Linked DNA regions of Homo sapiens. Each later gene encodes a partner of the first gene's protein in a complex. Each region holds a gene or a part of one and is shown on either strand. Other genes may lie near its edges. A codon is read from its position in the direction of its gene.

Region 1 (15,343 bases):
ATCTATCAATCCACTCATCCATCTATCCATTCACTCATTCATATATCCATTCATTCATCCATCTATCCATCCATCCATCCATCCACCCATCCATCCATTCACCCAAGCCATCCAGCCATCCACCCATCCATCCATTCACCCATCCATCCATCCATCCACCCATCCATCCACTCGTCCATTCACCGAAACCATCCATCCATCCAAACCATCCATCCATCCATCCATCCATCCACTCATCCACCCATCTGACCATTCACTCATCCATCCATCCATCCACTTATCCATCCATCCACCCATCATCCATCCATCCATCCATTCACTCCATTCATCCATTCGCTCATCCACCCTTCCATCCATTTACTCATCCATTCATCCATTCATCAATCCACGCATCCATCCATCTATCTATTCACTCATCCATCCATCCATCCACATGTCCATTCACGTGCTCAGATCTGCAGGACTCTGCTGGGGACAGGCACTGGGGACACAGGAGGAATAAGACAGACAACCTCTGCCATTGTGGCATCAACCTGGTTGAGCCAAAAGACCTTGGAGGAGGAGGTGTCCTCAGGAGCTCAGAGGAGGAAGGCTCCGAGCTCAGGAAAGGTGGAGCAGGAGAGATGCTGAGTGTGAAGGGATGAAGCTGGGGTGAGTGCATGATTTGGGGGAGGGTGGAGTCTGGCATCCCAGGACCTGGTACCCTGAGACCTGGCACCCTGAGACCTGATACCCTGAGATCTAGCACCCTGAGATATGGCACTTCGCGACCGGGCACCCTGAGGCCTGGCACTTGGAGATCTGGCATCCTGAGACCTGGCACCCTGAGACCTGGTACCCCAACACCTGGTACCCAGAAACCTGGCACGCCAACACCTGGCACCCTGACACCTGGTATCCTGAGACTCTTGTCTCAAGGGTGGGTGAGGAAAGCCTTGGTGGCTTCATCGTGCACTGAGACTCCTGGTTGTGGGACTCAGCCCAGACGCTGGGCAGATGATGTGCAGGATGGGAACCCCAACTCTAAACATGCCCCAGTGCAGCCCCTGGCTCCTGGAGAAGCCGGCAGTGGGGGTGGCCACGCTGGGAGAGCTCAGCCATTTCTGCAGTAGACATGAGGCTGGTTGGGTGCTGGAGCTTGGGCCCAGACAGGCATCTTAACAAGCCTGTGTGGTCACAGGGAGCGCCACACACGCCCAGAGGCGGGGAGCTCCTGGGGTGGCAGGGAGTGGGCTGGGGGGGCTGGCGGCCAAGAGTGACTCACCATCCCTGTCTCTCTCTCAGCCTCTGGCGGAGCTGCCAGGTACCCACAGGGAGCCCTGGTGGTTCCTTCCCTGCCCCGATGCTATCAGCACTTCCCAACCTTTGCCCCTTTCCTCAGGATTCTCCCGGGCGACACCTTAGCTCCAAACGCCATGGATTGTTTTATAGCCTACAGCTGATTCTCCGTGGGCAGCTCCTGGAAAATGAAACTTCACCCCTTCAGGGCCAGACCCTCCCCTGTGGAGACTCCTGGGAGAGTCTTTGCTTCCAGGCCTCCCGTGATGGCTCCTGACTCCAAACCCACTGAGCATACCTCTCCTGCCAGGACTGGGGTCCACAGGGCCCACTCACTGGTCCTCTCCTGGGAGGACTGGGTCCCCTGGGGACTTTGCTGACCACCCTGGCCTTCTAGGCCATCCTTGTCCCCAGAACCTCCTTTCCTATGCTTCTTCAAGGAGAACCTAAGGGCAGTTCAGCTGGAGTGGGTAGCAGATATGGTGAAGGGGTAGGTGCTGTGCGCATTGAGGGATTCCTGCCTCCAGGACCAGAGCACATGCAATAAAACCATTCACCCCAGGAGGTGAAGGTGACCCACAGCTGCCCTCACAGCCTGGGCACTGAGTGCCCGGTGGAAGGCTGCACCTGGGAGAAATCCACAGCTTAGGCAGGTGGTCTAGGCAGTGTCACACCCCCAGTGGCGGAGGCTCCCTGGGACACGCTGGGTAAGACAGCGGGGGTCCGGGAGTCAAGTGTCGGGTGAGGACGACCTCCTGCACCCACCCAGACAACAAGGAAGCACCCAGTGCCTCAGATTTGGGGCCGGGAGCAGGGAACCTGGCGCTCAGGGATCTGGGTCTTGACCCTGTCCAGTTAAGGAGGAGGTGCTGGAACCCCAAGGCTGAAGCTCCTGCAGAAAAGCATTCCCACACTCCCACAGTGGGGGTAACGCCGCTCAGAGGGGGGTGGGGGGGCTGCGCCGCTCAGAGCAGGGGGCTGCACTCCTGACCCTGTGCCCTAGCGTCCTCCTGACCCTCCTACGGCTGCGCGAGGCACTGCAGACTCCAGATACCCGTCTCGCTCCTGCCTGCCCTTCCAGCCAGGGTTCACCAAGATGTGGGGCGGCCTGGGCCTCCGCCATCACATCCCTCAGCAACACAAGCTCCACTTCGAGAGCCTGCCCCCACCGCCCCCACCCAGCCCCACTGTCCTGGTTTCCCCGTGGGCAGTCACTGCCGCTGCTCAGGTCCTAACCCTCAAGGCGCCACCTCCCTGAGCCAGCGCTGCCCAGCTCTGGAGTTCAGGCCCCATGGGATGTCAGCTCCCACACCTCCTGTGCGTCCACGACCCAAGGGGTACCCACGGCCAGACGCCTGGGGACAAATAGACCCAGCTGGGCCTAGAATCCACTCCCGGCCCCAGCCCCTCCCCGGTTTCCGACATCTCAAAATTGTAACTCCCCCAGTTCCCTTTTGGTCGGGTCCTGTCGCTCATGTGTGGCTCAGAGCTGCAGGGCGAGGTCAGCGCAGCAGAGCCCCCCGAAGGGTTGAGAACAGGATGGGGCCAGGAGGTCTGGCCCCTGCTGTGTCACTGATGACCCTGTGACATCCCCACTCCTGCTTCAAGGAGGCCCTGCTGTCCACCGCCCTGATGCCCAAGGGAAGCTCCCCACCATCCTCCCGGAATCTCCCCGGTGCCATTCTCTGCCCCATGGCCAGGCAGTCGTCTGAGAACTCAGATCTGACCACATCCACTCCTCACCACGACGCTAGGTGGGGACCAAAGTCCTCCAAGGCCTGTAGCTGAGTTGCTCGGGCCTCCCTCTGCCTCCCCAGGGACCCACCCTAGGCCTCCTCCTCTGGCTTCTGACACCCCCGCCTCCCTCTCCTTCCAGGGGCCCATTGCTTGCAGTCCTGACACCTGCCACTGCCTGGATCCCACCCCAGGGCCCCCACCCAGTGCTGCCAGGCCTGGCAGTCTCTGCAAGGCACAGCCTCAGCCCCCAGAGGAAGCCCAGGAAGGAAGGAAAGCCTGGCCCAGGGTTCCCAACACGGACGGTGCAGGGTGAGGCGGGGATTCTGGTGGGCACCTAAGGCCTAGAGTGGCCCTGGTGCGGGTGGCTGCAGGCTGGGGGCCCCCAAGGGGCACAGGAGGAAGCCCCCTCACCCTGCCTGAGGCAGACACTAGGCCCTGCCGCCTCCACTGCTAAAGACTTCCTCGTCCTCTCAGTCTGGGAGGTCTGCGCTGTGGAGTGGCTCCGTGGCCTCGGCCCTTGCCTCCCCTTCTGCATTTTAAAAAGATGCTGTAAAAGGCAGGGGAACCCCAGTGCACACAAATAGGGGGCTTGTGGGGAGCCCTTGCCGGAGCCAGACACGCGGCCTGAGGCTGGTGGGCCAACAGCAGCACCTGTTCCTTGCCCAGGCTCCTGGGCCACCTGCTGAGGCCCCAGCCCCAGTGTTTGCTTGAGGCAGCTCTGGCCCTCTGGCCATCCTCTGTCCCAAGCTGCCTGGAGTAGAAATCTCCTGGGATCAACATTGCTGTGGGTTTCAGGGTACCCGGACTCTTATTTCCCCAACCAGGTTACAAATGGCTTGAAGAAGGCTGGGGCTGTGAGTTAGAAACTCTCAGGATGTGTGAGAAATTCAACAAATGTTTGGAAAAGCAACAGGAATGGCAGCTCTTTTCTGCTGGAAGAGACATTTCTGTTCGTGTAACTTGAGACTGAAAGAGTGTGGCCAACCCCTGACCATTTTAAACAACAAAATGTGCCAAGCAGCTTAGTAGGTTCAGACCCCAGTCCGGGGGCTGTGGGCATGTGGAGGAGGCTGGGTGAAACTGGAGAAGTTCCCGCTGTGGTGCAGGCTTGGGCCCCGGTGTCTGTGAAGGCCTGGACCTGAGGGTCCTCTGGGAACACAGGTCGTGCACCTGAGGCTGGCTGCACAAGGAGGACGGTCTGGGCCAGTGGAATCTGAGAAGTCCAGAGTTCACAGGGAAGGGGTTGGGGGAGGAAGCACACAGGGAGGGCTGGGGGCTGTGTTCAAGAGGTGTGGCTGGCAGAGAGGGGATGGAGGGTGGGACACCCTGGGGGCCAATCCGGGCAGACCCAGAGCAGACCTCAGCTGTCACTGCCGGGGCTGCAGAGTGCACAGTGGGTTGAGGGGACGACAGGGAGCGTAAAGGGCAGGTCTGGAGAGGGTCTGCGCCTGTGGGATACCGCGATGAGCTCCCACAGCTGCACAGGGTAAGGCTCGCCTTCCCAGGTGGAGCCAACAATCCGAGACAAAGACAGCCGCTGAGTGCTATCAGGGTGGGCCTTTGTAAAGGACCGCCCTGCCCCGGGGAGTTGCTGCTGGAGCCGGCAGCCTCCCCGCCCTCAAGGACGTCTTCCCAGAACCAGTCCAAGTGTTTGGGAGACCTGAAGGCTTTTCCCTGTGAATAACAAACTCTGAGGCCAGGCAAAGCCCTGGTCAGTGTGCCTTATCTGCCGGCTCCCAGGCGGGGCTGGCTGGTGCCTGGCGGCTGTCATTGGACCTTCAGATGCCAGATTCTGACTCTGTACACTGGGCTAAACTGGGAGAGGCCCCAGCTTGTACAGAAATTAGATATTCACGGCCGGGCGCGGTGGCTCACGCCTGTCATCCCAGCACTTTGGGAGGCCGAGGCGGGTGGATCACCTGAGGTCTGGAGTTCAAGACCAGCCTGACCAACATGGAGAAACCCTGTCTGTACTAAAAATACAAATTAGCTGGGCGTGGTGGCTCATGCCTGTAATCCCAGCTACTCGGGAGGCTGAGGCAGGATGTGGAGGTTGCAGTGAGCCGAGATCGCGTCATTGCACTCCAGCCTGGGCAACAAGAGCAAAATTCTATCTCAAAAAAAAAAAAAAAAGAAAAAAAAAGAAATTACCTTTTCAGTTTACACCAGGGGGGCACTCCCGTCAGAGGAAAGCAGGGTGAGCTTTAGGACTGGGCGGCCGCAGAGCCCAGGTTGAGTCTGGACCTCCCTGATGCCCCAGGGGCCCTTCTCAAGGAAATCAACTGTAGGAGGCAGCCAGCCTCAGAGACTCCCCCCCGGCCAGCATCCCAAGCCCCCAGTGGAAAGCCCAGGGAGGACAGCCTGAGCCTGGAGAGCAGGCAGCCCGGCGGGGAGCTGAAAGACACCAGGGCGAGGAGGAGGCTGCGGAGAAGGGAGGAGGCGGGAGGGCTCAGAAGAGCCCTTATGAGACAGAAAGCAAACACACAAGGGGCCTGAAGGGGAGGGGAGACCCTGGCATAAATAGGGCAGGCGGCAGGCGTCACTGAAGGAAAAGGCGCCTTCTCCAATCAAGCCTGCTGGGCGTACCAGGTTCCACCAAGGCCAAGGTCCTCTCAGCTGTTCTCCCCGGAGCCTGTCCCTCCCCTGTCCTGCGTGGGCGCCCCTCCTCGGCCCCAGCATCGAAACCTCCTCTCGCCCCAGTCCAAAGCTGCTCTGGAAACCTGCCGCGGCGCCTGCTGCTCTGATCTTGCTTCTCCTGGCCCCACTCGGGCCCCCTAATCCCCCCTCCACACGAGTGACCACCTCCCTGCCACCCCTGGAGAGACCCTACCCTGTGGACCAACACATGAAACTTTGATCCCCACGAGCTCCTCAGGAAGCTGACCTTCCTGTCACCTTGCCAGGAGCTACCTGCCGTGCCCACATTACTGGTTCATTGGCGCCGGTTAAGAAGAAGAGAAATCTGACCGACCGGGATTTTCTAAAAAAAAAAAAAAAAAAGGAGGCCCGCCAATGGGAACGCTGCGCCTGTAGGGAGGATTCTGCTGGGTTTCATGCGGGTAGCACCGCTTTTCTTTTCTGCCCTTGTAACTCACGAAAAAACGCCATCACTCCAAGGACGTTTCTCTAAAAAGCCTGAGAACCCCGAAGGAAACCCGGCCCCGGGGACTCCCTGGGCGCGAGCAGCCTGCAGTCTGCGGGGCTCGGAGCGGAGGCGGGGCGGAGACCCCACAGGGACCCGGGAGCCGGGAGTCCGGGGCTCCGAGGCTGTGCCCCCGCCGGGGAGGGGAGACCTCGGGACCCGCAGGGGCGGCTTAGCGCGGCCAGAGTCGCTCCCGAGTCTCGCTCTGCTGGACCCGAGAGCCGGACTCTCCCGGGCGGCCGCCGCGCGGCTCCGACCTGATGCGCGCGGCCACAACGAAGCCCCCAGGCCCAGCAGAGGCGGCCGCACACCCCGCGGGCAGATCCGGAGACCCCGGGGCCACTTACCGATCTTGGCCAAGCTGGCCACGAGGATCCAGAGCGCGATGACGTAGGGATCCTGCACGTGGGCCCACTCGAAGGTGACCACCTGGAAGCCCCCGCTCTCGCCGTGCGCGCCGCCGGGCTCCACCTCGACGCCCCCGGCCCGCGCCAGCCCGCCCAGCGCCAGCGCCAGCAGCAGCCCCCGGTCGGGGCCCCGGGCCCCGAGTCCCCACATTGCCGCCTGCTCAGCGCAGGGCTGGGACGCGCATGTCGCGGGGGGTCCCGGCTGGGCTGGGCCGACGCGCGGGGCTGGGACCCGGCGAGGACCCGGCGCGCTCCGGTGCCGGTACCGGCTACAGTCCGATCCCCGCCCGCCGGGGTGGCCTTTAATCCCGCGGCCCCCTCCCGCCCCGGGGCGGAGCCTGCCCGCCCCCGCCGCGCACTCGCGAGCGCAGACACCGCCGCAGCTCCCGGCACGCCCGCCCCGCCCGCGCACGCCCACCCCGCGCTCCCTGGTGCCCACCCTCCCCCGGAGCCCGCGGCCTGGAGGTCCGGGAGGTCGCGGCAAGAGCGAGCCCGGGACTGCGCGGCCGCCTTCCTGGGGCGTGGGGAGCACAGCGCGGGGCAGCGGGACAGGCGGTTCCGCGCAGCTCCTGGGATGCCCGGGCAGCTGTGGGTGCGCTCGCCCCAACCCTCCTTCATAAACGCAGGGCCTGGGGCTGCGCAGACCCCACAGGGCGGCCCAAGGGTGCACAGGGGCCCCAGGTGTGTCTTCACACAGCCCCTCGCTATTGTCTTCAGCAGGAACCTGCATTCCACAGCCGGACCGGCCACTTACCAGAACTCGGGGGCGCCCAGGCCTTGCGTGGTGCGCTGGTAAGTCTCTCTGCCCCTCCCATCGCCAGCCAGCATCCCCCACCCCAGGCTCTGAGATGGGAGCCCAGGGGCCCCCGTGGTCTCCCCTGCCCCATCCCCTGCCTTTAGACCTCCGCCCAAAACAATTCGATACCCCCAGGGCTTCACACGGATGCGGGGCCTCTGCCCACAGCCCGCTCCGGCAGCACTGGCTCTCTTAAGCATCTCAGGCTCCACTGTGCAAACCACACCCCTGTTTTCCTCCAAGCCCACCCTGCAGCCTTCCAGCCCCAGACCTGGGACGCAGGTGGACTTCTTTCGCTCACAAGGTTTCCAAGCTCTTAGCATATCTGCTCTACTTTCAAAATGTGCACAAAACCAGCGGCTTCTGGGAGCCTGCAGCCACCTGCAAAGGCTCCTGCTCGGCCCTCTACCTGCCCCTTCAGTCCCTCCTATTGGGACCCTCCCTCTCAGAGGAAAGGCTCAACGTCTCCCGGGAGCTCAGACCCCAGCCACTGCCTGACCCCCACCCCCATGCACTCCACGGCCCACACCAGCAATCGGCGCCTCTCGGGGCCTTTGCACGCCCTGCTCCCTCTGTTTGGACGGCTCTTGTGTGCTCCCTTCCTCAGCTCCCCAGGGGCTTGGCTCCAATGCCACCTTCTGGTCCCACCCGATACCCACTCAGCTCACAACTGTGGCAGCTAAGCTCCCGCCTCCCCTGCTTACTCGGTTGGCTCCGGGAATCAGCTCACCTCCCAGCCCTGGGGGCTGCTGGCTTTGACCTTGAGCTGTCTGCCCTCACCCTGGGAATGTCTGCTCCACGAGCAAGGGGCTCATGCATACATCCCAGGAGCTTGGAAGATAGCTGGGCACACAATAGCACTCGCAAGATAGTGGCTGAGCGGATGGATGATAGATGGATGGAAGGACAGATAGGTGGACAAAGGGCAGGTGGGCGGTGGGGTGGGTGCAGATGGAGGATGGATGTGTCTTCTGACATCTGAGTGGGGGCTGCGGAGGCCTGAGGAGGACAGTGCTGAGTTCAATGACTTCACCCTGCAAGGGCCCCAGTTTCATGCTAATGGAAGTGGCCCGTGTAGCACAGGGAAGGTGCATTCAGATGGTGCTCGCCTGGTGACTCGGCTGCTGAGTGGCGTGGAGGGAGGGCAGCCCTGGCCTGGGCCACTGCAGGGTCTGGACAGGGCACCGGGGGAGTGGAAGTGTGTGACTGGCCACTAGTATGGTCTTGCGAGGTGGGAGCATCGGAGTCGCTCTTGGCCTGTGTCCCTGCCCCACCTGTCTCTGTCCCCCACTCCACTCCCAGCCTCTTGTCCCAGAGAAAAAGCCAGCAGGACAAGAACAGGATTCCCTCCAGTCCGGAGCTTCCCTGCTCTTTCCTTATGGTTCCTGGGTGGAGCCGTTAGGAACGACGTCCTCTCTGAAGATGTTGCCCTTGCATTCCACAGGAAGGCCAAATTTCCACCAGACCAGTGTGTTCCATGATGCCCACTGGACCTCCGGCCACCCCACCCCCCAACCAGCCTGTCCTAAGAGCCGACAACCTTTCTCCACAAAGCTGTTCAAAGGGCAGAAGAGCAGTGTCACTGCCTGGAAGGACAAATCCAGAACAGACACCAGTGCCAGGCGCTGGCCATCAGGTAGTGTGCTGCCCACACCTCCACTGCCCCCCACAGCAGGAAGGGCTGCCTCATGGAGAATAGAAAGGCAATGAGCCCCTGAAGTGGCGTGGCCAGAACAAGGCACACCCCACTGCCCACGAGTCCTGCCAGGGCACACCCCACTGCCCACGAGTCCCTGCACAGGTGAGAAGTGTGGCTGTTTGGCAGCATCTCAATCTGTGAGCATTTGGAGGATGAAATGCGTCTGCACTCCAAGGTTGCTGGAGGGCTCGGGGCAGACGGGCGCTGCCCCAGCCTGTGATGGGCATGGCCTTGAGGATGCCAGCCTCATGCAGAAGCCAGTCTAGGGGATTATACAGGGTGTGCACACCCACTCCCCTACCCTCGGACTGGAGCCACAAAACCCTCCCTCTAACTGGGTCGTGGTTTTAGGCAGGGCCGTGGCACCCCACCACTGCAGGGGCCACCATCCATATCAGGCAGACTGTATGAACCGTGCCCCTTGGAATTGTACAGTGCACAACCTGCACATCCTCATGGCCAAAAAGACCCAGAGACTTGTGTGTGTGTGTGAGGGGGTCTTGGGAAGTATCCTGAGAACATTCCTGTCCTGTGGGTGGTGACGATCTGATAACTGCCCGACCACTTCCTGCCTCAGGCAGGCACGCATAGCATTCTGGATCCTTCCACCGTGGCCTGGACCCCTTGTGGTCCAGGGACCCCCTGCACGTATGGGGAAGGGGCGTGGCTGTAAAACATTCAAAAATGTGGAAATAATGCAAAAGCCAGTCGGAAAACAACTGTAATCTTATACCCAGCTGCCACAGCATCTGAACTTCAGGATTAAGAAAATAAAACTGAAAACACCTAGTCTGTCACATTAATTTCCTGTCATGAATTCCACATACGGCTTGTGAAAGTGTCTTGTGGATGAAGAGGCGCATCCATTCATACTGTTGTTAACAATATTTAAGAGAAGAAAGTTAAGTTTTTAAGTAACTTCCAATGCTTGAAGCCAGGCAGGAGACAGGCATCACTGCCCACTCTAAGTTTATTTTTCAACCCAAAGTTGTCAGGGGCCAGGTCTTCTTAAGGAAGGTTTTATTCCACTGGGAGCCACACCTGCTGGCCTTCCCTTGGTCCACACCTGCTGTGTGCCAGGCACATCTCAGCTTCAGGCAAGAGGCCCCTCTGGGAGATGCCCTTCCAGGAAAGAGACCACCGCGCCCCCCCGTCATGCCACCTCCCGTCAATGCCACTCTTATTGGTTGTTGGATCCGGGGGATACAAATGTCTTTCTCAAAAGCAGATTAGAGCTCAGCCCTTCCCTTCCCGGGTGGCCTCTGAGGCCTCAGGTGGGACCTTTCCTCTTCTTCAGAGATGGACAGACTCTTGACCAGCCTGGAGCTGGAGGGCCTGCAGGACTTGAGGCCCGCGCTCTGGTCCGTCCTGTCCGTGTTGGGCCTGGGGTCTCCTCACCCGCGGAGACTCACCTTTCCTGGCTCCCTGAGGGCACCAGCCCGGGTTGGAGTCAGACCCCCCCACTGTGACACCCCTGCGGGGGTAGCTCAGGGCCTGTGTCTGAAGCGGCAGCTCCCCCCGTGGGTTGGGTGGGGAGTTCAGGGGCCCCGGGGTTGGGTGGGGAGCTCAGGGGCCCCGGGGTTGGGTGGGGAGCTCAGGGGCCGGGGGCTGCGCCGGGAGGGGCGAAGGGCTGGGGACGGCGCCGCAGGAGAGTCTCTGTGCCCCGCAGTCCACCCCAGGGCAATGGCGCGGGGGACCTGGCAAGGCCCGGCAGGCCCTCCCAGCACCGTCCCCGGCCGGCCCGTCAGTGCCCGTCGGGGTCGCGCGTCCTCCCTTCCGCCCTCGGGGACAGCCCGGCCGGCCACGCCGCCGAACTCGCCATGGGCCTCTCTCCGCATCCGCATGTGCATCCGCAACCGCTTCCGTCCCGCTGAGCGCACGAACCCTCTCGCTCCTGTCCCTCCCGCCCCGCCCGCCCCGCCCGCCCCGGACGCCTCTGCTGCGGTGTCTTAGCGGTCCGCGGACAGGCGACCTCCCCCGTGGACGCCCCTCTCCCGGCCGCCGCCCCGCCCCGCGCCCCGCTCCCCCGCGCCCCTGGGCCGAGACCTCCGGTCGCCTCGCCCCGTCTCCGGCCACGAAAGGCGCTGCGGACCTGGCGGTCACGCGCGAAGCCAGTGGCCTCCCCCCGCCCGGGGCTCCGGGATCCGGGCACCAACAGACCCGGAGGGACCGCGCCGCCCCGGGCAAACCCGCCCACCCCGTTGCCCAACACAACTGGAAGCACTAAAACCGAATCCAACCGTGTGCAGAGACCAGCCCAGCGCTCTGGGAGGCCCAGGCAGAAGGATCACTTGAGGCTGGGAGCTCGAGACCAGCCTGGGCCACATAGTGAGACCCTGTCTCTAAAAAACATAATAAAAAACAGTAGCCGAGTGGTGGCGCTCGCCTGTGGCCCCCGCATTTCGGGAGGGGAAACCCTTGGGAAACGTAGAATAGAAGCAGATTCCTTTAAGCTGATAGGTAGCATCTGTAAGGCCGGCAGGAGCAGGTGCTGGCACTCAGGAAGCCTCCTCTGAAGCAGGAACGTTTGCCACCTGCCCCCACCCTCAGCCTCATCTTTGGAGCAGGTGCTGGCACTCAGGAAGGCTCCTCTGAGGCAGGAACCTCGGCCACCGGCCCCCACCCTCAGCCCCATCTTCAGGATGCAAGACAGCTCCCGCCTGTAGGCAGCACAGAGGTCTTCCTCGCACACTCTCAGAACCGGCAAGAGTTAGCTCAGCAAGGCTGCTGGCTACAAAGCCAACAAGCCACCGTGAACTGGGTTTCTATGCACGAACAACACACTTTTTAGAAAATGAAAGCTAATTTAACAGTACTATTCATGCAGCATCAAAAATATGAAATACCTAGGAAAAAAAAATCTAGCAAGGGGTGTGGCGGAAATTTATAGGATAATTCAACAGTGAAACCAAATGGACATGGAGCTTTCTTTGTGGAAAGGTTTTAAATGATGGATTTAATTAATAAATATTAGGCTGTTTGGACTTTTCTTTTTGTGTCCATTTTGATAAATCATATTTTTTGACTTTTTGTCTTAATTCTGATAAATTGTACTTTTCAAGAAATGTGTTCATTGCATCAAAAATTCATGTTTATTGATGTAAAGCACATAATGTGATTGTAATCTCCCCTGTGTCCATAAGACTCTGCAGTGATGTCTCCCTTTTGTACCTCCTGGCGATGATTTTTGTTTTCTCTTTTTTAATGATCAACATTGCTGGGAGGTTTATCAACTTTATTCATCTTCTCACAGAACCAGATTTTGGTCTTGTTGATTTTCTCTGATTTATATCTGTCTTCTCTTTCATACATTTTACTATGATTTCCTTCCTTCTGCTTTGCCTTTATTTTGATGTCCTTTTTCTAGTTTCTTGAGCTGAAAGCATAGGTCATTGGTTTCAGCATTTCCCCTTTTTAAATGTGGAACTTTTTCAATAAGCTGTGGATTTCCCTTTGGTGGCTAGTTTTGCATATCCTGGAGGCTTTTTCATATGCTGTGTGTTCCTCATTCAGCTCAAGACATTGTATCCTGGACGCTTTTATATGCTGTGTGTTCCTCATTCAGCTCAAGACATTTTCTGATTTCTACTGTGGCTCCTTTGACATATGGGTTATTTAGAAGTGTGTTGCTTAATCCACAATTGCTTAATTTCTAAACATTTGGAGATTCTCCTCTTATCTTTCTCTTACTGAATCTACTGTAATTCCACTCAGCCCAGAGAACACAGGCTGTGTGACCTCAGTCCTCTTATGTTTGGCGAAAGGCGCTTTGCGGGAGGAACCTGGACCTCAGTCCTCTTATGTTTGGCGAAAGGCGCTTTGCGGGAGGAACCTGGACCTCAGTCCTCTTATGTTTGGCAAAAGGCGCTTTGTAGGAGGAACCTGGTCTGTGTGGGTGAATCTGCCTCAGTCATTGACGCAGTTCTGTGTTCTGTGCTCTGCTCAGACTCAACGGGACTCGTAGGATGCAGGGACGCAGAGCTCTAGGTGTGCTGGTTTGTTCCAGTTGGGTCTGAAAATCTTTATCTTCCAAGACCTTTTCTTAGTTAATAACATGCAGACGGCTGACGGCAGCCCCCCAGGATCCTCACGCTGCAGCTGAGCCTCTCCACCTGTGTGGGCAGCAAGGTTTCTCCCTCTCATCGCCCCCGTGCCCGCCATGCTCAGGGATGCGGCCTGTGCGCCCCGTCACGGCTTCAGACCTGCTCAGAGGAAAACGAGCTCACTCTGCTCTGGGTCCTTGGATGTGTTTTCTTCTGCCTCCTGGACTCGGTTCATTTCCCCATGGCGTCTTTATAATTTGCGTCCCTTCAGCAAATGTTTGCTTGAGCGGTGTTAGTTTCTGCATGAGGCACAGACGTACCCTCTGAATGCAGGCAGCACACGGGAAGCAGACCCTCGAGGGGGACGAATGTCAGAGGAGATGCGCAGGCAATTTGTGAGCGTGGAGTCGCCAGGAAGGAGAGATGCGGCCGGACTGGATGCCACATTCCACCACCCAGGCCGGCTCACCTCTGCGCGGCCGCGTTCCAAATCATTGTTCACACAGAATTTGGCTGCAGCGGGTGTCCTTGAGTCTCTCACACTTGAGTAATCATCCAGGTCTCCTCCTCCGGCTTCCTTTGAGGCCCTGGCCCCCCAGGGGCTCCGGCGTGTGTCCCCAGCAGACACTGCCTGGCCTGCCTGGCTCAGCCTTGCATCTACCCCCAGGGTGTGTTTGCCCCTCCTCCACGAGATGCGCTCTTGTCCTCCCTCTCCTCCCCTCCAGGGACCCTCCAGAGGCTCGTTCACTGCCTGGAGACACAGCGACAGCCCTCGCCACTAGCTGGAGGCTGGTGCTGGTGTGGGGCCTCAGACCCCTAGAAACACCGGGAAGTCAGGTGGAGCTGCGGGAGCTGAGACCTGGAGCAGGTGGCTGGCCGAGCCGGCACTGCCCTCACTTGGCATGGACCAGTCTTACTGTGCCTTGGAGCACCCCCCGCAGAGCAAGGGTGGTGAGTCCCTTGGCTACAGGGCTGGGCACGCTCTAGGTGGTTGACACGTGTGTGCACCAGGTGTGCAGTGGGCAGGCACCATCACACTTGCCGCTATTCACCGGCGGGCATTCCCACCTGCCAGTGGGGGTGGCTCTGGCTGGGGTCACCTCTGTGCCTGCCCCACAGCCCTTCCACTCTGCCTCCATAGAAACAGCTGGAGATGGACGGAATTGCTCTCTCAGGCAGCTGTTCAGTCAATCTTAGCTCACGCTGGATCCCAGATCTGTCCCTCCCCAGGAGCGCTCAGCTCTCCACTCTGCCCCATCCTGCAGCTTCGGCTTTGACTCAGACAGGCCGGGAGATCCCTGGTATTTCTGGTCAGATGCCTGCCGTGGGGAGAAGAAGAAAACTCTGGAGCTGGCTAGGCCCAGGTCCTCACCAGGCTTGGGCAAGGTCTCCTGGACATCGACGGGCCTCACTTTCCCCATTCGGCTGTGGTGATGCACGCTGTGAAAGGCTCTGAGCTGGACCAGGGTCTCAGTTTCCCCTATGTGGTTGGGGCACATGTTGTGAGCAGCTCTGAGCTTGACCAGGGCCTCAGTTTCCCCTATGTGGTTGGGGCACATGTTGTGAGCAGCTCTGAGCTGGACCAGGGCCTCAGTTTCCCCTATGTGATTGGGGCACATGTTGTGAGCAGCTCTGAGCTGGACCAGGGCCTCAGTTTCCCCTATGTGGTTGGGGCACATGTTGTGAGCAGCTCTGAGCTCGACCAGGGCCTCAGTTTCCCCTATGTGATTGGGGCACATGTTGTGAGCAGCTCTGAGCTGGACCAGGGCCTCAGTTTCCCCACGTGGCTTTGGCACACGCTGTGAGTGGCTCTGAGCTGGACCAGGGCCTTTCCCATGCCATGTACCTCAGTGCGTCCCTGAAACTGTCAGAGTGACCTGAGTGACCTGTGTCAGGCGGTGACCGCCCAGCCCTTGCACCTCAGACCTCCTGGATGGAGAGGACACTCAGCTCACAGGGCAGTCTGACGAGAAGCCTCTGGAGCTGTGGAATGGCTCAGGCTGCCGGACTGGGGGCCAGGTCCCCTTCGGCCTGAAAACAGCCGCCATCTCAGCTGGCCGGGAGCCCCGCCTTGCCTGGAGTTCAGTGGTATCAGGCCAGGCTCAGAGCAAACACGGCCTGAAAGCCGTGACAACGGGCTGCCGTGCTGGGCTTTGTCTGAGCTGACGCTCGGGGACTTAGGGAGGCTCTCGAGTTCAGAGCCAGGGCCCCTCCTGGCACAGCTCAAAGTGCATCGTGCTC
Region 2 (14,383 bases), on another chromosome or scaffold:
CCTTTTAACAATAACTCCATTACCATCACCACCACCATCCCCCAGCCCTGGGCAACCACCGTTCTACTTTCTGTCTCTACAAATTTGACCACTCTGGAAACCTCACATAAGAGGAATCATACAATATTTGTCCTTTATATCCACTTTATTTCACTCAGCATAATGTCTTCAAGATTCATCCATGTTGTACCATTTGCCAGAATTTCCTTTTTTTTTTCGAGATGGAGTCTTGCTCTGTCGCCCAAGCTAGAGTGCAGTGGCGCAATCTCAGCTCACTGCAACCTCCGCCTCCTGGGTTCAAGCAATTCTCCTGCCTCAGCCTCCCGACTAGCTGGGATTACAGGTATCCACCACCATGCCAGGCTAATTTTTGTATTTTTAGTAGAGATGGGATTTCACCACATTGGCCAGGCTGGTCTCGAACTTCTGATCTCATGATTCACCCACCTTGGCCTCCCAAAATGCTGGGATTACAGGTGTGAGCCACCGCTCCCGGCCTCAGAATTTTCTTTTTTAATACAGACTAATATTTCATTGTATGTGTACACAACATTTTATTTATCCATTCATCTGTCGATGGACACTAGGATTGCTTCTACCTTTTGGATTCTTTGAATAATGCTGCTATTTCTTCCTGGCTACTCTCCCAAGCTCTACTCCGCCTATACTCCTCAACACCCAAGAAAAATATTCTAATGTAGACTCTTTACTTTCCACATCATTATGTGTTATAAAAACTTAAACCATTTAAGAAGACAATTAGAATGTGGGAAGGAAAACCTGTAGACCTCTAGACTTCTCTCTTACTTACCATGCCCTGGGCCTAAGATGAATTATACCTTTCACTTTTTTTTTTTTAAACACTATCCACCTGTAGATAGGGTTGTACCTTTTACACAAAGCACTATTATTACTATTATTATTATTATTCTTTGAGATGGAGTTTCACTCTTATTGCCCAGTCTGGAGTGCAATAGCGTGATCTCGGCTCACTGTAATATCAGCCTCCCAGGTTCAAGCAATTCTCCTGCCTCAGTCTCCTGAGTAGCTGGAATTACAGGCATGCACCACCATGCCTGGCTAATTTTGTATTTTTAGAAGAGACATGGTTTCACCATGTTGGTCAGGCTGGTCTCGAACTCCTGACCTCAGGTGATCCACCCACCTCGGCCTCCCAAAGTGCTGGGATTACAGGCATGAGCCACCGCGCCTGGCCTACAGAAAGCATTATTATAACCTCACCAATCCAAAGAGGAAAGCAATAAGGTACCACTTCCAGGAGACAAACAGAAGAGCAGAGTGGCACTATGTGTGCTTGGGCCTGTGCCTACATGGGCATAGTTCAGCCTTGCTGATCGTGATTAAAATTCTCTCACCGTGGCTTAGAAAAGAAATAGAACAAAGTGTGTTCTCAGAGTTCCTGAAGACAGTATTCTATGCAAAGTATAACCCATAATAAAATTTGGTTCCACTCCTCTGTAAACCCACATTTCTTTTTTTTTTTTTTGAGATGGAGTTTTGCTCTGTTGCCCAGGCTGGAGAGTAATGGTGCAATCTCGGCTAACTGCAACCTCTGCCCCCCAGGTTCAAAGTATTCTCCTGTCTCAGCCTCCCGAGTACCTGAGATTACAGGCGCCCGCCACCACGCCCAGCTAATTTTTTGTATTTTTAGTACAGACAGGGTTTCACCATGTTGGCCAGGCTGGTCTTGAACCCCTGATCTCAAGTGATCCACCCGCCTTGGCCTCCCAAAGTGCTGGGATTACAGGCGTGAGCCATCATGCCTGGCCTGTAAACCCAGATTTCTAAGTAACACATCTCCTTTTTTTTTTTTTTTTTTTTTTTTTTTTTTTTGAGACAGAGTCTCGCTCTATCACCCAGGCTGGAGTGCAATGGCATGATCTCGGCTCACTGTAGCCTCCACCTCCCAGGTTCAAGCAATTCTCCCGCCTCAGCCTCCTGAGTAGCTGGGATTACAGGCATCCACCATTATGCCTGGCTAATTTTTTTTGTATTTTTGTAGAAATGGGGTTTCACTATGTTGGCCAGACTTGTCTCGAACTCCTGACCTCAGGTGATCCGCCTGCCTCAGCCTCCCAAAGTGCTGGGATTACAGGCGTGAGCCACCGCACCTGGCCCACATCCCCTTTCTCTAAGGTAAATGTGTCTCAGTGGCAAATGTATTGCTAGGTATATGACATTCAATTGCTCTCAGTCTACAGTAAGAGGCACCATGCTACAGCTTATACAGCCCTGTGGGAACTTCAAAGAGAAGCAACACATTTAGACAGAAATTGAGGACTTCTCGGACTCTTCTAGTCTTTTCTTTGGCATTAGAATAGCTTCGGTTTTACTGGTCTAATTACATGAATGTGATCCCTATACATAGACTGCAACAGAATTCTAATTAATTTTTAGCTTCCTATAAAAGTTAATCCAACAGCCAAGACTAAAGTATGTAATGAAAAAAACAGGCTGGGTATGGAGGCTCATGCCTGTAATCCCAGCACTTTGGGAGGCCAAGGTGGGATGACTGCTTGCGTCCAAGATTTCGAGACCAGTCTGGGCAACATAGTGAGACCCTGTCCCTACAAAAAATTAGAAAATAAAAAATTAGCTGGGTGTAGTGCACACGCCTGTGGTCCCAGCAACTTGAGAGGCTGAGGCAAAAAGATCACTTGAGCCAGGAAAGTCAAGGCCATAGTGAGCTGTGATCACGCCACTGCACTCAGCCTGGGTGACAGAGTGAGACCCTATCTCAAAAAATTAAGCAAAAACAAAATAAAACCAAGCATAACCTGCATAGCACTTTGTTATTATTCTATCTCATCCTGAAGTCTGCCATTTCTGTGGCATTCCAACCTTTTTCCTTAGCAGAACCCCAATCACAGCATCAGGAGGGGAATCTCATTAGCCTAATCTCCTCGGCACTCGCACTCTCCTGACCTGAACTGACTTATCAAAGTGAGGGGAAGGACTTACATTCCATGCTTGGGAGGAGTGTTGCTCAATTTCAGTCTCGATCTCTCTCTATATATATCTCTCTTCCTCTACTGCCAGATGTGAACAAGAAAAAAAAAAGCCCTGTTAACAACTGAGAGCTGCCATGTGACCATAATACTTTAGGATAAAACAGACTATGAGGATGGCAGAGTAAAGAGAAAAATCCCTAGTTCTTGAAACAGAATCAACCCTCCTGCCGGCCTAATCTGACTTGTAAAGTGAGCTAATATAGTTCCCTATTGTTTAAGCCAGCTGAGTCAGCTAAAGGTATCCTAAGACACCATGTAACGCCCAAATCCACTAGTGCTATTTCGAAGATTTTGTTTTGTTTTCTTTTCTTTGTTGAGACAGAGTTTCTGTCACCTGGGCTGAAGTGCAGTGGTGCCATCAAGGTTCATTGCAGCCTCAACCTCTCAGGCTCAAGCAATTCTCCCACCTCAGCCTCCCAAGTACCTGGGAGCACAGGTGCCTGCCACCACACCTGGCTAATTTTTGTATTTTTATTAGAGACAATGTTTCACCATGTTGCCCAGGCTGGTCTCAAACTCCTGGGCTCAAGTGATCTACCTACCTTGGCCTCCCAAAGTGCTGGGATTACAGGCATGAGCCACTGCGCCCAGCCTTCAGTCAGTTTTAATACAACTGTAATTTCAACTTGTACTGAATAAAAAGATAAATTTAATTTCAATTTCCTGGAGAAGTGTTGTAAGGGATTGGGCAATATTGTACATGAACCAATAAGGGCAGAAGGGAAGGCAAACAAGTATTAAAGGAAAAGAGGCATGAGACACGGGTATAAAAATTAAATCTTGCACTGTATCCAGCTGTCCCCCATTACTTAAGTCACATCCAGTGTCTATCAAATTCTAAGATGAGCTGAGGATTGCCATTATTCCTTAAAGGTGGGGCCTGGGTCTTGTTCACTATTGCCATGCTAGCACTTAACACAGTGCCTGGCACACGGTAGGTGCTCAATGAATTATAATGATACTAGGTAACACTTATTAAGTACCTAGTATATGCCAGGCACTATGTGAAGCACTTGACATTTATTAACTCATTTAATCCTCACAACAATCCAATGTGGAACCCCTTAGTATCCTATTTTACAGAAGAGAAAACTGAAGCCCAAAGAGGTTAAGTACCTTGCCCAAAGTCACACGACCAAAAAAGGGTAGACTAGTATTTAATCTTGGCCAGTTTAGCTCCAGAGTCTGAGGTCTTAACCAGTATGCTCTTGTAGATGCTTGTTCAAATAATGAGTGAGTAAATACATGACTTTTAAGAAATGAAAAGCAAGTATTTTAAGCCAGAAGACTTTAGCTCCTTACAGTGCAGTTTGTTGCTTCGGCTGTTGAGTGGTTCGGGTCCATTCACATCTTTGCTCTTTTCATTATCCTCAATGGGGCGGAAATGAGCCAAAGTTCGCATGAATCCACGGAAGTTTACCTGGTCCTCTCTGATTGTGAAATATAACAAACACAACACCATGTCAATCACGGTGATTATTTCTTATGAATTAAATATACTGGCAACAGCTTTAGCTACGGTAGCCTGAAAGGTCATTTAATGAGGTTTCTTTCCATACGCATGGTACTTTGGGACTCACAGTACCATATCATTTAAGCCTCACCCCAACCTTGTAAGGCAGGTGCTATTACTCCCACTTTATAAATGATTTAACCAGATTTAGGTAACAGGACTTACCAGGGATAAAGTTATCTATTGAATTTACTTGCATCTGTTTTCCAAAAAATGAATGTAGAGTAGTGCCAGCACTATACAAGACAGCCAGAACTTGAACTCATTGCTTTGAACTCTGCAGCGAGCCACAGGCAGCCCAATGACTCCTCAGCCACCTCCCACATCTCCCCCATCTCCCCTGCAGTAATGTATACCAAGGGATATTTTAAAATTAAGGCACATTATGGAAAGGCCGCTTTTAAAATAAAGTTTATTTAATTTTTAATTTTTCTTATTTATTTATTTATTTTGAGACAGAGTCTTGCTCTGCTTATAAATAAATAAAGTCTTGCTTTATTTATTTATTTTGAGACAGAGTCTTGCATCCAGGCTGGAATGCAGTGGCACTACCTCGGCTCACTGCAACCTCCGCCTCCCGGGTTCAAGCAATTCTCCTGCCTTAGCCTCCTGACTAGCTGGAACTACAGACGCCCGCCACCATGCCCGGCTAATTTTTTGTATTTTTTTTTTTTTTTTTTGAGATGGAGTTTTGCTCTTGTTGCCCAGGCTGGAATGCAATGGCGCGATCTCAGCTCACTGCAACCTCCGCCTCCCTGGTTCAAGCGATTCTCCTGCCCCAGCCTCTGGAGTAGCTGGGATTACAGGCATGCGCCACCACGCTCAGCTAATTTTATATTTTTAGTAGAGACGGGGTTTCTCCATGTTGGTCAGGCTAGTCTCGAACTCCCGACCTCAGGTGATCTGCCCGCCTCAGCCTCCCAAGTGGTGGGATTACAGGTGTGAGCTGCTGCACCCAGCCTAATTTTTTGTATTTTTAGTACAGACAGGGTTTCACCGTGTTAGCTAGGATCGTCTCAATCTCCTGACCTCATGATCTGCCCACCTCGGCCTCCCAAAGTGCTGGGATTACAGGCATGAGCCACCATGCCCAGCCAAGTTTATTTAATTATAAAAGCAAACATAAATTTGAAAATGTGGAAAAAAGAAAAGTAGATAGAAAAATACTGATCCGAGTTCTACCAATTACAACCACAGTTAATATAAATATATTTTCTGGCTGGGCACGGTGGTCCATGCCCATCATCCTAATACTTTGGGAGGCTGAGGCAGGCAGATCACTTGAGGCCAGGAGTTGAGACCAGCCTGACCAACATGGTAAAACCCTGTCTCTACTAAAAATACAAAAAAATTAGCTGGACGTGGTAGTGGGCACCTGTAATCCCAGCTACTCGGGAGGGTGAGGCAGGAGAATCGCTTGAAACTGGGAGGCAGAGGCTGCAGTGAGCCTAGATTGCACCACTGCACTCCAGCCTGGGTGACACAGCAAGACTATGTCAAAAAAAAAGAAAAGGAAAGGAAAGGGAAAGGAAAGGAAAAGGAAGGAAAAGGAAAGGAAAAGGAAGGAAGGGAGGGAGGAAAGGAAGGAAGGAAGGAATCAATCAATTAATCAATCAATCAATCAGCCAGGCATGGTGGCTCACGCTTATACTGCCAGTTATTTGGGAGGCTGAGGTGGGAGAATCACTTGAACACACAGGAGGCAGAAGTTGCGTGAGCCGAGACTGCGCCACTGCACTCCAGCCCAGGTGACGGTGCAAGACTCCCTCATATATATATGAATGCATTTTCTTCTAGTAACTTTTCTATGCTTTTCAGATAACTGTATTAGTATCCTGCCTTTTTTTTTAACTTTTAAGCATTTCTCCAATCAATATAAATACTTTGAAACATTTAAAACATATGCATAATTCTGTGGACACATCATGATTTTATTATTCCCTCATAATTGGATAATTTTTCTCTAAATAATCTTTTAGGCCAGGCACAGTGGCTCACGTCTATAATCCCAGCACTTCAAGAGGCCAAGGTGGGTGGATCACCTGAGGTCAGGAGTTCAAGACCAGCCTGGCCAACATGGTGAAACCCCGTCTCTACTAAAAATACAAAAATTAGCTGGGCCTGGTGGTGCATGCCTGTAATCCCAGCTACTTGAGAGCCTGAGGCAGGAGAATCACTTGAACCCCAAAGATGGAGGGTGCAATGAGTCGAGACTGCACCACTGCACTCCAGCCTGGGTGACAGAGGGAGACTCCATCTCAAAAAAAAAAAAAAAAAAGTTTTGAAAGACCTCTTGTGTATAAAGCCTTTTTGGTACTTAAGCTTGGAGAAAATCTTTTCATTGTGCCACAGGCTAATCAATAACCCTGTAAGAAATAATTCTCAAAACTTGAATGAAGAATGTTCTTTAATATTAAAAAAGAATGCCCCATGTAACATAATATAATTTATTTATCTAAGGCAGATGGCCTGGTTCCTGTGGTTACCTAAAAAAAAAAAAAACCCCAGCCTTTCTGTGCCCCACCGAATAGCTGAGGTATGTAGGTTCTCTTCTGTGCTCTATAGACATGCAGTTCATAGCCCTTCTAAAGGCAGAGTTCAAAGGCTAGCCTGTGAGCCATCTGTACTCAAAAGAATGACCTTGGCTGGGTGCAGTGGCTCACGCCCATAATCCCAGCACTCTGGGAGGCCGGGGCGGGCGGATCACCTGAGGTCAAGAGTTCAAAACCAGCCTGGCCAACGTGGTGAAACCTTAGCCAGGCGTGGTGGCGTGAGCCTGTAGTCCCAGCTACTTGGGGAGGCTGAGGCAGGAGAATCACTCGAACCCAGGAGGCAGAGGTTGCGGTGAGCCAAGATCACACCACTGCATGCCAGCCTGGGAGACAGAGGGAGACTCCGTCTCAAAAAAACAAAAAACAAAACAAAAGAATGACCTTTTAGTTCTTCGATGTATCTATACTGCTAATGGACCAGTATCTGGTCAAAAATGTCAGATCTGAGGAATCAAGTAATGTGGAGTAAAGTTTAAAACATATGCTAGAAAAAACACATTAATGATTATTGCTAGCATAAAGTTTCTGGGTAAAAGGGAATTGAATAACCATGGTCCACTTTCAAATCTCATTCTTTAAAAAAAAAAAAAAAAAAGCCCCAATGTGCATATGCCTAGGGAAGAAAGAAAAACCCAGAAGCCAAATATATCTATCTGATTAGAGCAAGAAGCAGAGTCGCAGCTTGCTAAGAGCTAAGCAGTGCAGCCCAGTAGAGCCCTCCACTTCCTCATATGCACTCTGTCCCATTTCCTTAGCAGTAGATTGGTGGACAGAATGACAGGTGATATTGTAGTCACAGCAAATGTAGTTTAGTCTTACAAAACAGCTTCCCACAAGCTGCTTCTTCAAGTAATCAATGGTGACTAAGGAATTCTGAAAAAAAGTTGGCAAAGTGACTCTCCTGGGTTTACTTTTCATTGCAAAAGGTTTGGATACAAAGCATAGCTGTGAAAGTTATCTCTGGATAGGGTTCAATGCTTTGCAGGGGTAAAAGAGGAATTAGAAAAAAGGAAGAATTCAGCATAAAAACCACACCTGAAACAAACAGGGCAGTTCAAGGAGAGAGAAAGGAAAAAATGAAAGAGGGCATAAGATTCCTCATAGTCAACGTGATTTGATTCCCATCTTTACATGAACTAACTGCCCGACCTAATTCCCCTTCTGACTTTCACTCACATTTCCTGAATGCCCAACCCTCTCAACTAGCAAATTCCTTTGCTCTCAATTTAGAGTTCTAAAATTTCCTCTCCAGGCATTTTATCTGACAGTGTCCTCATTGACAGTCTCATTATTAAAAACTGGCACCCATATAATATTTTGAAGTCCTGTGGGTCATAGACTATCCATATAAACCAGGAATAGATTGTTTAGGAAATTACTTAAAACAAGCTTATATGTAAGTTTTATTGTTGAAAAGGTACCTAATCAAATCAGTAAATATTTACTCACTACTGTGAAGGCAGTGTATTAGGTAGTAAAGCATATCAAAAGACTAGTTTCATGTTAGAAAAACCCACATTAAGAACAATCTACTTGACAAAGCATATGTGGTGAGAACTATGTTTATTCAATATCACGAAAGTAAAATAAAGGCTGGGGAAATGTTCCAGATTAAAGGAGGCTAAAGAGACATGACAACTGACCCAGACTAGATCCTGTACTGGAGGCGGGGAAGTGCTATAAAACAGATTATTGGATGACAAAATTGGAATATGAATATAAATTAGAATAAACTGGATAATATGTTAATAAAACAGAGTAATAGATTAGATAAGAGGATTGTATCAATGTTAAGTTTACTGAAGTAGATAACTATACTATGGATATGTAAAAGAATGTCCCTATTCTTAGCAAACACACACTGGTGCATTCAGAGGTAAAGGGTCATTACTATGCAACTTACCCTGAAATAGTTCAGAAATACAATTATGTGAACACACATACACAAAAAAATTACATAAGTATGTGTATATACATACATGTATGTATGTGTATGTATGTACGTACATGTAGGCATGTATGTATGTATATACACACACACGTAGAGTATGTGTAGGTAGAGAGAGGGGAAAGAGAGAGGGAAAAAGTGTCTGCAAGAGAGGGTATGTAGAGTAAGCACGGGTGTACAAGCTGCGCTGTTCAATACTGCAGTCACTTGTCACATCTGGTTATGTGCACTGAAAACATGGTCAGTCTGACTTGATATGTGTTTAAGTGTAAATTACACACTGGATTTCAAGGACTTATTATGAAAAAATGTAGGCTGGGCATGGTGGCTCACGCCAGTAATCCCAGTACTTTGGGAGGCTGAGGCAGGCGGATCACCTGAGGTCAGGAGCTCAAGACCAGCCTGGCCAACATGGTGAAACCCTGTCTCTACTAAAAATACAAAAATTAGCCAGGTATGGTGGCATGTGGCTGTAATCCCAACTATCTCGGAGGCTGAGGCAGGAGAATCGCTTGAACCCGGGAGGCAGAGGTTGCAGTGAGCCGAGATGGCACCACTGTACTCCAGCCTGAGCGACCGAGCAAGACTCTGTCTTAAAACAAACAAACAAACGAAAAAAGGATCTCAGTTATTTTTAATATTGATTATATATGGAAATAATATTTTAAATATATTAAATAAAATATATATTACCAAAGTTAACTTATTTTTACTTTTTAAATGTGGTTACTAGAAAATGTAAAATTACGTATGTGGCTTGCATTATATTTTTATTGGCTACTACTAAGAAGAGAGCACACAAATGAGGCAAAATGTTAACAATATAACAGTAGATGCATCAGGGCAATAAATATACAAGTATTCTCCGAATTACTTTTAACTTTTGCAACTTTTTTGTAAATTTGAAATTATTTCCAAATAAACATTTTTTAAAAGTCTAGTTTTACATCAATGATAAACATAAGAATTTTGAAGATAGGCTCATATATCTATTTGAAGTTTAAAACACACAGGAGGGTAGAACAGAAGAGATATTCTAGAAATGACAAAATTAGAATTGCTCAATATAATCAGGGGGTATCACAGTCTGAGATGGCACAACCAATATCATTATTCCAGATTAGCAAATAATTTAGGTTGTGATAGCCTCAGGAAGGAAGTCCAACAACTGTACTGACTCACCCCTCTGGAAAGAAGGCATTGATGATCCGGTCCCCCAGTGGGTTGATGGCAAGTTCTGGAATCCTCTGGAAATCTTCCCGGCTGCCAAGAGAATCACCTTGAGTTAGATAGAGATCATTGCCCTTAGCATGAACTCCTTAAGTCAGGAGGTAACAGGGTGTAACCTAGCAAGAATATTACCTCCTGGAATTTACTTCTGTGGCAAATTATACCAAATAACTGCAAAGAATAGCACTTTAATAGCTGCCAAGTGTTTCTTGCACCAACTCAGAAGTGGAAGGAGCCAGATTTGATTACGCCACATTCCAGTGAATTTAGCACACAGGTTACGTCAATAAGCCAACTGATGGACAAATACTAAGCTGTCCCTTAGTAAATGATTTCTTGAACATTAGCATTGCGTACCTAGTTATTAAGTTTGGAAAGTGAACAGCAAATGGAAAGTATCAAATACTGCAGAACTTGAATATGGGGACAAACACTTAGAGGGGTCTCCATATCCTTGTTAAGATTTTTAGGCACTTACAAAATGCAAGGAATTCTTAGGTGCTATTTACATGCAAGGAAATAATGTGACAACCAATTGATTTCCTTGTTCTGACTCTGGCTTTTTCTCCATTTCCATGTTCTGTGGACTAGGGCTACAGAAGTATTTAACCCTCAAACATGACAAGAGCAGTCATCCTCACATGACTTAGGCGAGGTTATACCAAAGCGAATATTGTCAGTTACCATTCATCACATATATATCATGTGCTGCTCTGTTTACATACATTATTCTCATTTCTTCACGCCAATGTTTTATGTATACCCTTTTAGAGCTGAGGAAATTGAGAGTCAGGAAGATAAAGTAACTTGCCCAAAGCCACACTACTCCTAAGTAGCAGAACTGTGATTTAAATCTAAGTCTGTAAGTCAAAGTATGTGTTCTTTTTCTAAAAACCATATTTCTTTCCTATATTGAACTTTTTTTTGAGACAGAGTCTTGCTCAGTCACCCAGGCTGGAATGCAATGGCATGGTCTTGGCTCACTGCCACCTCCACTTCCCAGGTTCAAGCGATTCTCCTGCCTCAGCCTCCCAAGTAGCTGGGATTACAGGCACTCTCCACCACGCCTGGCTAGTTTTTTGTACATTTAGTAGAGACGGAGTTTCACCATGTTGGCCAGGCTGGTCTTGAACTCCTGACCTCAGGTGATCTGCCGGCCTCGGCCTCCCAAAGTGCTGGGTGGGATTACAGGAGTGAGCCACGGTGCCCAGCCCTAATATTGAACCTTTTGAATGAAAGTTACTCTCCCCCAAATTCTTTATTTTTATTTTTTTGAGATGGAGTTTCGCTCCCAGGCTGGAGTGTAGTGGCTTGATCTCTGGGTTCACTGCAACCTCCTCCTCCCGGGTTCAAGCGATTCTACTGCTTCAGTCTCCCAAGTAGCTAGCATTACAAGCGGGTGCTACCATGCCCGGCCAATTTTTGTATTTTTAGTAGAGGTGGGGTTTTACCACATTGGCCAGGCTGGTCTTGAACTCCTGACCTCAGGTGATCCACCCACCTCAGCCTCCCAAAGTCCTGGGATTACAGGCGTGAGCCACCGCACCCAGTCCCCCAATTTTTCAATAAGTATTTTTTAAAAACTTTCTTTTGTTGGTTCCTGGGCCAAGAATACAAAGCTGTCTACAACTTATCTGTGCTGCAGTCTTCAAAAATATCAATGTCATGGAGGACAAAGAAAAGCAGAGGATTGTTCCAGATCAAGGGGGGGCTAAAGAGACACACAACAAAACCCAACACATGATCCCGGACTAGGAAAAAAACTGCTATAAGGACATTATTGGATAATATGTGAAAATGAAGCATGGACCATATAAAATATGGAATATTACATAATGGTACTGTTTCAAAATGCAACTTTCTTGATTTTGATCTGAGAATGTCCTTTCTATAGGAAATAAACAGTGAAGTATGTGACAAAATGTTAACAATTGGTGAATCTGGGTATCAGAATAAAAGTTATCTTGTATTGTTCTTGTAACTTCAAGTTTAAAATTATTTCCAGATAAAAAGTTAAAAAAAAGATTATAAACTAGATTTTACTCCTGCCTTCAAGAAGTTTACTTACAGACAGATAAAATGTATACCTCCACCCTCTTTGTAATATATGCTAGCAAAGACGGAAGATAATAAAATACTCCTACTGTACCCAGGAGACTTCACGCTCTTTTCCTCTTGTGGTTTAACGTTTACGTGGTGCTTAATTAACTCAGCAAGCTCTTCTCCACCACATTTGGTGACACAGGTAGAAACTGACCTAGTGGACTGAACACAAAGCTCTGGAACAATCATCCTGGATTCTAGTCCTTCTTGACCATTTAGTGTAATAATTTTATATCAATGCATGAACCAGAAGAAGTCATTCATAAGATAACTGGATTGCTTAAGATGATGAAAGAGAAAATTACCGAGGTCCTGATTATTTAATTCAACAAACATGTACTAAGCTTTTATTACATAATTTGTTCTGTAATACAAAGTCTACACTATCATCAAAATGTAGCTCCTCCTGTCTGACAGAGGTCAAGAAACAATAACTACTCACTTTTAAATTAAGACTAAGGCTGATTTGAATTGCATGGCTACATACTTCAGTTTAATGTCTAACAAGCTTAAGAAACTTTAGCTGAGAAAAGGCAGTTTAAATACCAAGTCTAGTATCAAGTGGTGATGCACAACCTAGCCTGAACTTCAGTCTCAATAAGGAGGTGTACACTTGGCCTTCCGATGGACCTGTCCTTTGATACTTTCTAACTCTACTCTTAGAATTTAGATTGTATATATAATGTAGTTCCAGTCACCCAGATCAAGGACAGTATTGCTAAAAGTATTAAAGTTAAAAAGAAAGAGGGCTGGGTATGGCAGCTCAGCCTATAATCCCAGCACTTTTGGAGGCCAAGGTGGAAGAACTGCTTCAGGCTAGGAGTTCGAGACCAGCCTGGGCAACAGAGCAAGACCACATCTCTAAAAAGTTTAAAAAAAAAAAAAAAATTAGCCAGGCATGGTGGCACGTGCCTGTAGTCCCAGCTACTTGGGAAGCTGAAGCGGGAGGATTGTTTGAGCCTAGAAGGTCAAGGCTGCAAGGAGCCATGGTAACATCACTGCCCTCGAGCCTGGGTGACAGAGTGAGACCCTGTTTCAAAACAGAAAAAACAAAACAAACAGAAAGAGTATAAAAAATAATTTGTCAGCCGGGCGCAGTGGCTCACACCTGTAATCCCAGCACTTTGGGAGGCCGAGGCGGGAGGATCATGAGGTCAAGAGATGAAGACCAACCTGGCTAACACGGTGAAACCCCGTCTCTACTAAAAAAACAAAAAATTAGCTAGGCGTGGTGACGGGCACCTGTAGTCCCAGCTACTCGGGAGACTGAGGCAGGAGAATGGCATGAACCTGGGAGGTGGAGGTTGCAGTGAGCCAAGATTGCGCCACTGCACTCCAGCCTGGTGACAGAGCAAGACTCCGTCTCAAAATAAATAAATAAATAAATAAATAAATAAATAAATAAATAAATAAATACTTTGTCAACTGTTAAATAAATAATATACGAACAAGTTATTATTACTGGTTGCTTTATAGTAGAATGTAGATCTGGGCAGTTTCTCTAAAACTTAGATTCTCAAATTTACCCATCAACATAAACCTAATAGAAAAAAATAAATACTCCAAAGTGGCCTAAACACCACAAGCATAAGATCCATCCGAAGGCCGGGCACAGTGGCTCACGCCTGTAATCCCAGCACTTTGGGAGGCTGAGGCAGGTGGATCACGAGGTCAAGAGATCAAGACCATCCTGGCCAACATGGTGAAACCCCGTCTCTACTAAAAACACAAAAATTAGCTGGGCATGGTGGCGCGAGCCTGTAGTCCCAGCTACTCTGGAGGCTGAGAAAGGAGAATCACTTGAACCTGGGAGGTGGAGGTTGCAGTGAGCCAAGATTGCGCCACTGCACTCCAGCCTGGTGACAGAGTGAGACTCCATCTCAAAAAAAAAAAAAAAAAAAAAAAAAAAAAACCATGTGAAATACAGATTTGTGTGGATTCACTGAAAAGCATACCAACATTATGTTCTGCCTCATGGTATACCTAGGAAAACCTTCCTTGAAGA

What was found.
Region 2: the proteins of SLC9A3 (region 1) and CHP1 are in contact, whole or in part, in a cryo-EM structure (PDB 7X2U), measured with the Homo sapiens proteins. Residues at the interface, in NP_004165.2 of Homo sapiens: Tyr396, Arg397, Met398, Gln400, Glu402, Arg474, Leu475, Asn476, Glu477, Leu479, His480, Gly481, Arg482, Ala483, Phe484, Asp485, His486, Ile487, Leu488, Ser489, Ala490, Ile491, Glu492, Asp493, Ile494, Ser495, Gly496, Gln497, Asn501, Arg504; in NP_009167.1 of Homo sapiens: Arg30, Leu31, Arg34, Leu38, Lys40, Glu49 (codon at 10,304), Phe51 (codon at 10,298), Gln52 (codon at 10,295), Arg53 (codon at 10,292), Ile54 (codon at 10,289), Glu56 (codon at 10,283), Leu57 (codon at 10,280), Ala58 (codon at 10,277), Ile59 (codon at 10,274), Asn60 (codon at 10,271), Pro61 (codon at 10,268), Leu62 (codon at 10,265), Asp64 (codon at 10,259), Ile66 (codon at 10,253), Phe70 (codon at 10,241), Phe83, Leu87, Phe90, Leu115, Phe117, Ala118, Leu121, Tyr122, Leu135, Leu139.

The regions. Positions count from the first base shown.
Region 1 is NC_000005.10:517,608-532,950, forward strand, and holds the start of SLC9A3 (sodium/hydrogen exchanger 3 isoform 1 precursor), read right to left. Parts: upstream 6,843-15,343; 5' UTR 6,716-6,842; coding exon 6,505-6,715; intron 1-6,504. UniProt on the Homo sapiens protein: Plasma membrane Na(+)/H(+) antiporter. Exchanges intracellular H(+) ions for extracellular Na(+) in 1:1 stoichiometry, playing a key role in salt and fluid absorption and pH homeostasis.
Region 2 is NC_000015.10:41,252,835-41,267,217, reverse strand, and holds part of CHP1 (calcineurin B homologous protein 1), read right to left. Parts: intron 10,519-14,383; exon of another isoform or gene 10,408-10,518; intron 10,309-10,407; coding exon 10,228-10,308; intron 4,463-10,227; coding exon 4,335-4,462; intron 3,054-4,334; coding exon of another isoform or gene 3,031-3,053; exon of another isoform or gene 1-3,030. UniProt on the Homo sapiens protein: Calcium-binding protein involved in different processes such as regulation of vesicular trafficking, plasma membrane Na(+)/H(+) exchanger and gene transcription. Involved in the constitutive exocytic membrane traffic.